Linked DNA regions of Homo sapiens. The protein of the gene in region 2 interacts with the protein of the main gene of each other region in a pairwise test. Each region holds a gene or a part of one and is shown on either strand. Other genes may lie near its edges. The genes, in order: BMP10, CD33 and HERC3.

Region 1 (3,656 bases), on a different chromosome or scaffold from region 2:
TCCATTCATAAAAAGATGGCTGAAATATAAGGACGTAAATGACAAGGATCAAAGGAGATATAAAGTGATCAAATGATTTCAGAGGGGAGAGGAGGGAACTTTCAGATGAGAAGTAAGGGAGGCTTTTATAGGAGATGTCAGAGCTGGATAGGTGGAGGTGAGGTGAAAGGGCTTTCCAAGGGTCAGAAGAACATGTGAAAAGGTGAAAATTGCAGGGAAAAAAAGAGTGTTTTGACAGGTGGTAAAGATATCAATGTAGTTAAAACAGAAGGGTTTACAAATCCATTCAATTGTTCACAAATATTATTGAGTAATCACAATGTTCCATGCACTGTGGAGGACGTATGTAAGCTATGGCTGATCAGGAGGTTAAGACCCAGATATAGCTGGTCTTGAGAGCCATGCCAGGGAGTTTAAATTTATTCTGTAGGTCAGCATTTCCCACTAGCAGTGTGTAAGATTAATTTAGGTGGTACCCAAAGAAAGCTATTAATCATGTGAAATTATTGTATATTTTTCTTAGTATGGATTTTTAGCAAACACACATAAATATCACCTCAAATCTCTCCTTTAATGAATTATGTTGCTTAGGAACAGTCTAAAATAGATAATAAGTATAAAATAATTAGATCAAATTAAAGAAAAATATTAAAAGATTATAATCTGAAACAGGGACTCACCGAGATCATGAACTAAGTATAAACTTGGGGAAATGCTGCCAATGATGACAGAGAACCCCCAGTTGGTGGTCCTTAGCATCTTCGGTGCCATGGAGTCCTTTGATAATCTGATGGCAAATGCCTTCAGGGCTTCCTTGTAGACTCATTACCTGAGGCAAGTGTGCAGGAGCTTTGGGCTCACTGTGAAATATTCAGATAGGAAGTCAACATGATCGTATTTGGAAGTATGCTTCTAAGACTAAAGGACTTTTACAGAGTTGATTCATAAACATTATTGAGTGAGTTATACATGTCACGCCCCATGCCAGGTGCTAGGGGTACAAGACTAAGGCAACCAATCTAGTCCCAGGATTCATTTTCTCCCATTCCTCTTTATAGAGAACCATATAACCAGCAGTCAATTGCTGAGACCCTCTTGGTTTATGGCTGTCTTATTGGCCTTGTCAGGCTTTGTTGCCTAGAACAGAAGTCAGCAAGTTTCTACTGTAAAGGGCCAGACAGATAATAACTATTTTAAGCTTTGCAGGCTATATGTTCTTTGTTGTATCTATTTAACTCTGCCATTATAGTGCAAAAGTAGCCACAGACAATACAAAAACAATGGATGAGGCTGTGTTCCAATAAAACTTTATTTCCAAAAGCAGGTAGCAGGCCCATATTGGCCCATAGGCTATAGTTTACCAACCTCTGATCTAAATGGAGGTCTTTTAGGAAGACCAGTGTCCAGCCAACTGTGCGGGGATCTCCACCCACTACAAACACAAATATTAAAAAACCATGAAGTCCTCATCCCCGAAAAGCTTCAAGAAAGGAACAATCACCACATGTCCCATTTGGTGGCGTTTTGTTTGTTAGGAAATTTGGGGACTTGCCCACACAATCTCCAAGGTCCCTCCCAGTTCTGTAATTCTGTGGCTGATGAGCTATTCAAGCAAGGTTGGCTGAGTTTTATGCCATCCATTAGACCCCCATTTTCCATTTTAGTCTTGGCAGCTGAACTCTTTTGGGCATTCTACCACTGACCTTTTGGGATTTCCTGTGTCACAGAATGCTGACATTGTGTTTGTTCTCATTGATTTTCTCCCTTCATTCTTTCTGCATTAAGCTTTGTGCATGGGAAGGCCTTCTTATTACATAAATAAGCATCTGTTTTTCCCTGAGACCCACTGCAAACCTGATTTTTGCAAATTTCTTTTTTCAGATCTGTTTTCCCAGCCGGTCAGTTTTAATGGGCTCCGAAAATACCCCCTCCTCTTCAATGTGTCCATTCCTCACCATGAAGAGGTCATCATGGCTGAACTTAGGCTATACACACTGGTGCAAAGGGATCGTATGATATACGATGGAGTAGACCGGAAAATTACCATTTTTGAAGTGCTGGAGAGCAAAGGGGATAATGAGGGAGAAAGAAACATGCTGGTCTTGGTGTCTGGGGAGATATATGGAACCAACAGTGAGTGGGAGACTTTTGATGTCACAGATGCCATCAGACGTTGGCAAAAGTCAGGCTCATCCACCCACCAGCTGGAGGTCCACATTGAGAGCAAACACGATGAAGCTGAGGATGCCAGCAGTGGACGGCTAGAAATAGATACCAGTGCCCAGAATAAGCATAACCCTTTGCTCATCGTGTTTTCTGATGACCAAAGCAGTGACAAGGAGAGGAAGGAGGAACTGAATGAAATGATTTCCCATGAGCAACTTCCAGAGCTGGACAACTTGGGCCTGGATAGCTTTTCCAGTGGACCTGGGGAAGAGGCTTTGTTGCAGATGAGATCAAACATCATCTATGACTCCACTGCCCGAATCAGAAGGAACGCCAAAGGAAACTACTGTAAGAGGACCCCGCTCTACATCGACTTCAAGGAGATTGGGTGGGACTCCTGGATCATCGCTCCGCCTGGATACGAAGCCTATGAATGCCGTGGTGTTTGTAACTACCCCCTGGCAGAGCATCTCACACCCACAAAGCATGCAATTATCCAGGCCTTGGTCCACCTCAAGAATTCCCAGAAAGCTTCCAAAGCCTGCTGTGTGCCCACAAAGCTAGAGCCCATCTCCATCCTCTATTTAGACAAAGGCGTCGTCACCTACAAGTTTAAATACGAAGGCATGGCCGTCTCCGAATGTGGCTGTAGATAGAAGAAGAGTCCTATGGCTTATTTAATAACTGTAAATGTGTATATTTGGTGTTCCTATTTAATGAGATTATTTAATAAGGGTGTACAGTAATAGAGGCTTGCTGCCTTCAGGAAATGGACAGGTCAGTTTGTTGTAGGAAATGCATATTTTCCTCTCCAGTTAAGTCCCTTTCAATCTGTTTTCTCTTTGGACTTGCCATTTCCTGGCAATGCCACCTCCCTGTTGATTTGAAAACAACCCCTAGGCAAAATACAGTGTCAAAAGACACACACTTGTGTATGTATATTTGTACATACATGAACTTACAAAAATCTTTTGGTTCTATGCAGGCAGGTTATACTCATCTACATGCATGACTCACTCAAATGTATGCATATTAAAGGCCAATGGTATGTTCTCTGTTACCTCTTCTCTGAGTAGGATTTAAGTCAAGATAATTGACATCAGGGTTTTAATCATCCTAGGAAGTATTACCCTTCCTAAATACTCTGGAAATGTAAGTGTAGCTTTTGTCAGTTGAGTTTCTGTAGTTGCTCAGAGAGGAGGGGCCTGGCAAAGGATGCTTGAAGGGAAGGGTTAATTGATACAGAAACCAAATGGACTTAAGAGGTCTTAGAGGTACAACAGGAAAAAATGAACCCATGGAGGACCAATGTGCTCCAGAGGGCAACTCCTGGTCAAGGCAGGAAAACAGAAGAAACCAGCATGAAATCTGTTCCTGAGACAATAGGAAAGCAAGGCCATGAGTACTGGCCATTGCTGCTGCAGAGAGTAGAGGGGTTGGGAGGGTACTTGAAGGGGAGAAAGGGAGAAAGGGAAGAGGATATTGATGTT
Region 2 (2,874 bases):
ACATACTAGAGTTTCTCACAGAGCAGCCAGAGTGACTCCCACTAAAATGAGTGTCAGTTCATGTCACTCTTCTGCTCTAAACGCATCAATAACTATGATGGACTTAGGATCCTGCAATATTTGCAGCTCCTATGTCTCTTCAACCTCATTTCCTACCTACCATTGTTCAGTCCACACTCCACCCCCAACACGTAACTCTGCCTTATCCACACTGTCCTACTTTGTTTCTCTAAAACATCAGATGTGTTCCGGCCTCAGAGCCATGGTACTTGCTGCTTCCTTGATGATTCTCTACTGCTCATACTGTACTCACTTTCTTTCTGCAGGTGTTTGCCCAAAGGCCATTCTTTGGCCCCCAGGACTGTCCAATCCGTTCTCCCATTTCATTTCCTGCCATAGCACTTATTTCATGCCTATTTCATGTATATTTGCACTGCTTATTTGTTCATTATTTTCATCCCTTTCCCCAATAAATGTTAAGCCCCCGATAGGAGGAATATTTTATATTTGTAAACTGTGTGTTTATAAAAATACAGAATGGCACAAGGACCTAGAGCAATTGGCAAATGGGATTATATAGATATTTCAGAATGAATGGGTGCTGGTTGACCCTGTGTTCAAAAACTTTACTGTGGTGTTCACTTTAGTCAGAGTTAAATAAATTAAAAAAAAAATCAGAGCTTGAAGGATGCACTGGAGTTGGGCAGGTAGCTATTAGGCATATGAGGAGGAGGGGACAGCCCAGCAATGATTCTGAGATGAGAAAGCTTGCCCTGCTTGAGGTGATTGAGTGGCTAATGTTGGGGGAGCATAGCACTGAAGGGGACTCTGGTTTTCCTGCTCCAAATGCCAGACCAAGTTGTTGGAATGCCAATCTTTCAGGAGTGTAGAGAAGCAGTGCATTTCAAACTTGGGAATGATGGGACAATGACCTTTTAGGGAGGTGATGCTAATGTTCTGGAGAGGAGAAATGGGAGGTGAGGCTGCAGCAGAATAAGGAGTAAGAGGGGCTCTCGGCTCAGGAGTGGTTGTGTTAAGCCGTGTTCAGAGGAAGCTCAGACATGCATCGTAGCATACTGGCACAGGAAGAGATGGAGGACTGGGACAGGAGGGGGCCATGTCTCTGGTTGGGTAATGGGGACAAGAGTGCCATCAGCGAGATGGAGAACCCATCAGGAGAAGTATGTTTAGGGGTGTGTCAACCAAGTGTTTCTGATGTTTTGACATCTGGGGCATTACTGACCCTTGAGAGACTGCCTTTCCCAAGGATAGTAGATTTCTAGAGCTAATAAAGGACTTGCATACAAGTGCACCTTTCATGTGCAAACCAGTCAATCTAAAGCCCACACTACCAGCTGGATCCTTTATTGAGCTCTTACACTCCAGACCACAATCCTCCTTAATAAACCCAGGGCCATGTACCAGACAACTAGAGACAACTCCTATACCCCAGAGTCTGCTGAAATTGTTCTAAGTAGCCAATCCTAAACCTGCCTAGCTTGCTTACCCTGTCTTGCCCATTCTTTTCCATGAAAGCCACAGTGAAGGCTCTTGTCCCATTTTCTCCTTGCTCCCTCTGCTTCCTGACTGACCCTGGTGCTTCTCCATATGGCCTTGCATGGTGTGGTGTGCCCTCTCGGGAACGGTGAATAAGAAACTATTTTTTTTTTCTTTTTGGGACAGAGTCTCTCTCTGTCACCCAGGCTGGAGTGCAGTGGTGCTATGTCGGCTCACTACAAGCTCTGCCTCCCGGGTTCATACCATTCTCCTGCCTCAGCCTCCCAAGTAGCTGGGACTACAGGCGCCAGCCACCACATCTGGCTAATTTTTTGTATTTTTAGTAGAGACGGGGTTTCACCATGTTAGCCAGGATAGTCTCAATCTCCTGACCTCGTGATCCGCCCGCCTTGGCCTCCAAAGGTGCTGGGATTGCAGGTGTGAAACACTGTGCCCGGCCAAGAAACTATCTTTTCAATGGCCATCATCTCCTGATCTGTTGGCCTCAACGTACCTGAAAAATATTAAAACCTACACTGTTAAACAGGAGGAAAGACAATAAGCTCAGTTCTGGAAATGCTGAATGGGGCATGACGGTGGGCCACATTGGGAGGAGGTGTCTGCAGGACAGACTGGATGCCAGGATGCCCCATCACTCACCGGGGAGGCTGACCCTGTGGTAGGGTGGGTGTCATTCCTGCCCACTGCTGTCCTGGCTGCTTTCCTCCTGTGGGTCTTCACTCTGATGGGAGACACCAGGGTCTTTGAGCCTGGTTTTCTCAGGCTGTGGGGCCATTGTTATGAGCCTGGAATGAGGGACTTTGGCAGGTAAAGGGTGGGATTAATCCAGGAGCCCTCAAACAAGACTTAGTCACAAGGTCTCCCTCTACCTCCCACTCCTTGGACATCTGAGATCAGGGCCCTGGAATAGACCCACGCCTATCCCAGTGGCCACAGGCTGGATTCTGTACATCATCACACCCCCTGCCCTTTCTCCAGCCCTCACAGCCCCTCCAGGACCCTTCTACACCAGGTCCATCCTCTTCACCTCTGGCCCATGCCTGACCCAGAGAAAATGCTCACATGAAGAAGATGAGGCAGAGACAAAGAGCGAGCAGGGCTGTAACACCAGCTCCTCCAATGGCCCCATGAACCACTCCTGCTCTGGTCTCTTGTTTCCCTGCAGACAAAAAAGATTTGGGGTGAATTCTAATCTAGATAAACAGGTATGTGTATCCTCCTCTCCAGCATGTAGAGAGGGGTGACTTCACCTCCAAAATGGGGTTTAGCTCCTAGATCTTCCCACCCATCATAGACATCAATATTGACCACGACCATGAGATGAAGTACACAGTGCACCTGACACCTCTTGTCCCA
Region 3 (3,656 bases), on a different chromosome or scaffold from region 2:
TAACACATCATTGTACTTTCAAACGATTTTAAAAATTTACAGAAGGCACACATTCCTTTGAGCATTGCTATCTTTGTTCCATAAAGATGCAGTCTGAAATTCCCTTTTTATTATTTTTCTATTTAATGAACATCCTTACAAAGTGATTTTGGCCAAGTGTCAAGTGAATGTAGTGCTCTTGTGCACATTGTTGTGATAGGCATTTTGTATACAGGGTTTAGAGGTATACCCTTAAAGATACAGTGAAGTCCTATGGTGTTTGTTCCTTGTTAGAGTGGAGGTGTGTTTACCTTTGGCGCTGGTTCCTGTGGGCAACTTGGACACGACTCCATGAATGATGAGGTTAACCCTAGAAGAGTTCTAGAGCTGATGGGTAGTGAAGTAACTCAAATTGCTTGTGGCAGGTGAGTGTTCCTCAAAGCTTGCTTGTATTCACTAGGACCCAGAAATTGGTCTTATCTTTGTAGTGATGAAGAATGTGATTATACCTAGTCACCGTCATTTTAAGAGATCTTAACTGCATGCACGCCTATGGTGAAATGTGGAGAAAGACCTTGATAGAGTGTGGCAAGGAAGGGTTTTAGATAAGCAGAGCAACACGGAGACATTAGGCTTCTTTTGGGATAAAGAGTAGCAGGATGTGGGGAAGGGATAAAGAAAGGAAAAGTGAGAGAGTCCCAAAGAACTTCTTGGAAATTTTTGCCTGAGTCTACCCTGCTTCTCTCTGTTCATCTTAGAGGCCACATGCAGTAGATCATTCAGCTCTTTCCTGACTTGCCACCCTCCTCATGATCTAGAGTGTTAGAGGATAGTATTATGGAGAGCAGCCGCTGCAAGAAGAGTCACGTGTTAACATGGGAAAGGCTCTATAGGAGCACCCTGTGCTGTGCACATGTGGAAGTTAAAAGTCAGAGTCAGAGTGTACATCCACATTAGTAGAAACTATGCTGATGAGTTAAATTATTTTTTCACAGACAACATACCCTAGCCTTCGTGCCTTCTTCTGGACTCATCTATGCATTTGGTTGTGGAGCAAGAGGTCAATTAGGAACTGGGCACACTTGTAATGTTAAGTGCCCATCTCCTGTCAAGGGTTACTGGGCTGCCCACAGTGGCCAGCTTTCAGCCCGAGCTGGTAAGAATGATTGTCTCTGGAATTTAAAGGTATTTTAAGTGATGAAAACAGTTGTTTACAGAATATGTATCTATTACTTACTTTGAGGTCTTTTGGAGGGAATGAAGATAAGGTATTTTTTAACATCAATTAATAATTTCTGTACTTACTATGCATGAAGCTGTAGAGTTGAGATCCTAGAGAATAAATAAAGCAGGAAATACTGTTGTGTTAGGCCGTTCTTGCATTGCTGTAAAGAGCACCTGAAACAGGGTGATTTATGAAGAAAAGAGTTTTAATTGGCTCACAGTTCTGCAGGCTCTACAGGGAGCATGATGCAGCCATCTGCTTGGCTTCTGGGGAGGCCTCAGGAATCTTACAGTCATGGCAGAAGGCAAAGAAGGAGCAGACACTTCACATGGCAGAAGCAGGAGCAAGAGGAAGAGTGGAGAGGAGGTGCCATACTTTTTACACCACCAGATCTCATGTGAACTCAGAGCAAGAGCTCACTTATCACCAAGGGGATGGCCCAAGCCATTCATGAGGGATCCGCCCTCATGATCTAAACACATACCACCATGCCTCACCTCCAACATTGGGATTACTGCAATTCAACATGAGTTTTGACCAGAACATACATTCAAACTATACCAGTTATTTTGTTTCCACAGACCTTGGTGGTGGTGTATACATTTTATTGTTGTTGCTAATAATGACAGTTCGCATGTATTGAATGCTTAATGACGTTTCATTACTATGCAAAGCACTCAAAATAATCTAAGAACTAGTTAGTGGTTATTATCCCCATGTTAGAGATAAGGGAACAAAGTCTTAAGGAGGTCAAGTAATTTGCCCAAGATCACATAGATTCTGGAGGCAGGATTTAAACCCAGGTCATTCTAAATCATGTGTACTATGTTACCTCTACTTTGCTGTTGGCATTTTGGTATATAACATGATGTGATTTCTTTTTAAGCCATTTTTTTTCTTCCCTTAAAAAATAGTTAAATAGCAGTCTTGGTTTCATTGGAAATCAAAGTCAGGCAGTCATTAATATTGAATGACTGCTTCACCTTGAAATAATAAATCTGAGGCTGAAATGGAGCTAGAGAATCATTAAAAGGAAGTGTAACTTATTAATTTTGATTTTGAAGTCGATAAAGTGACACACTTATGGCTTGATCAGGAATTTGTTTGAAACAGTAACCATCATAAGTTTTAGTACTGGATTATAAGAAACTCAAGGACACAGACAAACTCTTTTCCTTTTTGTAAACCTAGCATATAGCACAGGACCTGGCATGAACTTGTCACTCAGTAGACATTTTTGGAATGGATATATGAGCATCTGAAATGTAGTGCAACTTAAAATATAAATAAACAAGATTTTGTCTGGGTGATGTTCCCAGAAGCAAAAGAATGGCTTTGTGTCCTCTTCTCTGTAATTTGTAAATTCTTTTCTCCAAGACATTGTACTCATACGTGGAATACATTTATTTAGAAAGTTTACCAACTCAGGTGTTTTTTGGTTATTTCAAAACCACAAATTTTTGAAGTTGAATTATAACCTGACTTCCATGGTCCTAAATTTGTGCTTGGATGTTTGCCAAAATGATTTTATAACATAAGCAGGTAAATGTCAGTTATGTAAATGACATGGTTTTAGGAACCCTCTTGGTAATGTGGGAGCACAGAGGAAGGCATGGAGGAGTATTGTGGTTAGAGGAAGTTTGAGCTGTGCCTCGAAGGATGATTTGGAGTTAGCCAGGTGTAGAGGACTGTGAGGGAGTTGGTGTGAGCACCACCAAGGTGCAGTTCCAGAAGCACATTCAGGTTGTGCTCTCGGTGGGCACATTCATGGAGAATCCCATGTGCCAGGGGCAGCAGAGGGGGGAGGCACCGAGATGTGAAATAGTGTGGTGTATTAGAAATAAAGGCAACGTGGTAGTAGGAGAATGTCACCGTGGACACAGTGTGATGGGAGGTAAAGCAGGGAGCAGGAAACGGAGGTCCTTCCGTGGCAAGATTCGTCCTGACGGGGCCTGGGCCCACCACACTCACATGCTGAATTGTTACCATAAAGAATAGTGCCCATTTCAGATTTCAGGTCAGTGGCATGACAGAGTTAGAATGAAAAAGAGAAACTAGGTCAGGATTCACTGGCAGTTGGGGAGGGGCAGAAGAAGAGTTAGAGTGGAGGATACCATTTTATATATTTATTTTTAATTGAAGTAGAAACAGTCCTAGGCAGTGAGCCAGGGGAGAAGATTTCTTACTTCTGTGACACAATTAAAATGGATAGGTACCCACTCTGAAGTGTATTCTGCGACAGTAGAAAAGGGGATCAAGGAGAAACTTCAATTAATGAAAAATATGCTTTCGGAATTTTTTTTTTGACAGATCGCTTTAAATATCATATCGTTAAGCAGATCTTCTCTGGAGGAGACCAGACTTTTGTACTTTGCTCCAAATACGAGGTAAAATTTTTCTTGTGACTCTTATTTCCAGGAAGGAATAATAGTGAACCAACATTTCTTTTAAC

Evidence for each region.
Region 1: the proteins of CD33 (region 2) and BMP10 interact in binary tests that used the Homo sapiens proteins (3 or more experiments, as listed by UniProt).
Region 3: the proteins of CD33 (region 2) and HERC3 interact in a two-hybrid assay, tested with the Homo sapiens proteins (one large-scale study listed by BioGRID and IntAct).

Annotation. Positions count from the first base shown.
Region 1 is NC_000002.12:68,864,797-68,868,452, reverse strand, and holds part of BMP10 (bone morphogenetic protein 10 preproprotein), read left to right. Parts: intron 1-1,881; coding exon 1,882-2,822; 3' UTR 2,823-3,656. UniProt on the Homo sapiens protein: Required for maintaining the proliferative activity of embryonic cardiomyocytes by preventing premature activation of the negative cell cycle regulator CDKN1C/p57KIP and maintaining the required expression levels of cardiogenic factors such as MEF2C and NKX2-5.
Region 2 is NC_000019.10:51,234,960-51,237,833, reverse strand, and holds part of CD33 (myeloid cell surface antigen CD33 isoform 1 precursor), read right to left. Parts: intron 2,678-2,874; coding exon 2,581-2,677; intron 2,317-2,580; coding exon of another isoform or gene 2,240-2,316; coding exon 2,158-2,239; intron 2,012-2,157; coding exon of another isoform or gene 2,003-2,011; exon of another isoform or gene 1,868-2,002; intron 1-1,867. UniProt on the Homo sapiens protein: Sialic-acid-binding immunoglobulin-like lectin (Siglec) that plays a role in mediating cell-cell interactions and in maintaining immune cells in a resting state.
Region 3 is NC_000004.12:88,654,901-88,658,556, forward strand, and holds part of HERC3 (probable E3 ubiquitin-protein ligase HERC3), read left to right. Parts: intron 1-273; coding exon 274-404; intron 405-974; coding exon 975-1,135; coding exon of another isoform or gene 1,136-1,173; exon of another isoform or gene 1,174-2,534; intron 2,535-3,514; coding exon 3,515-3,591; intron 3,592-3,656. UniProt on the Homo sapiens protein: E3 ubiquitin-protein ligase which accepts ubiquitin from an E2 ubiquitin-conjugating enzyme in the form of a thioester and then directly transfers the ubiquitin to targeted substrates.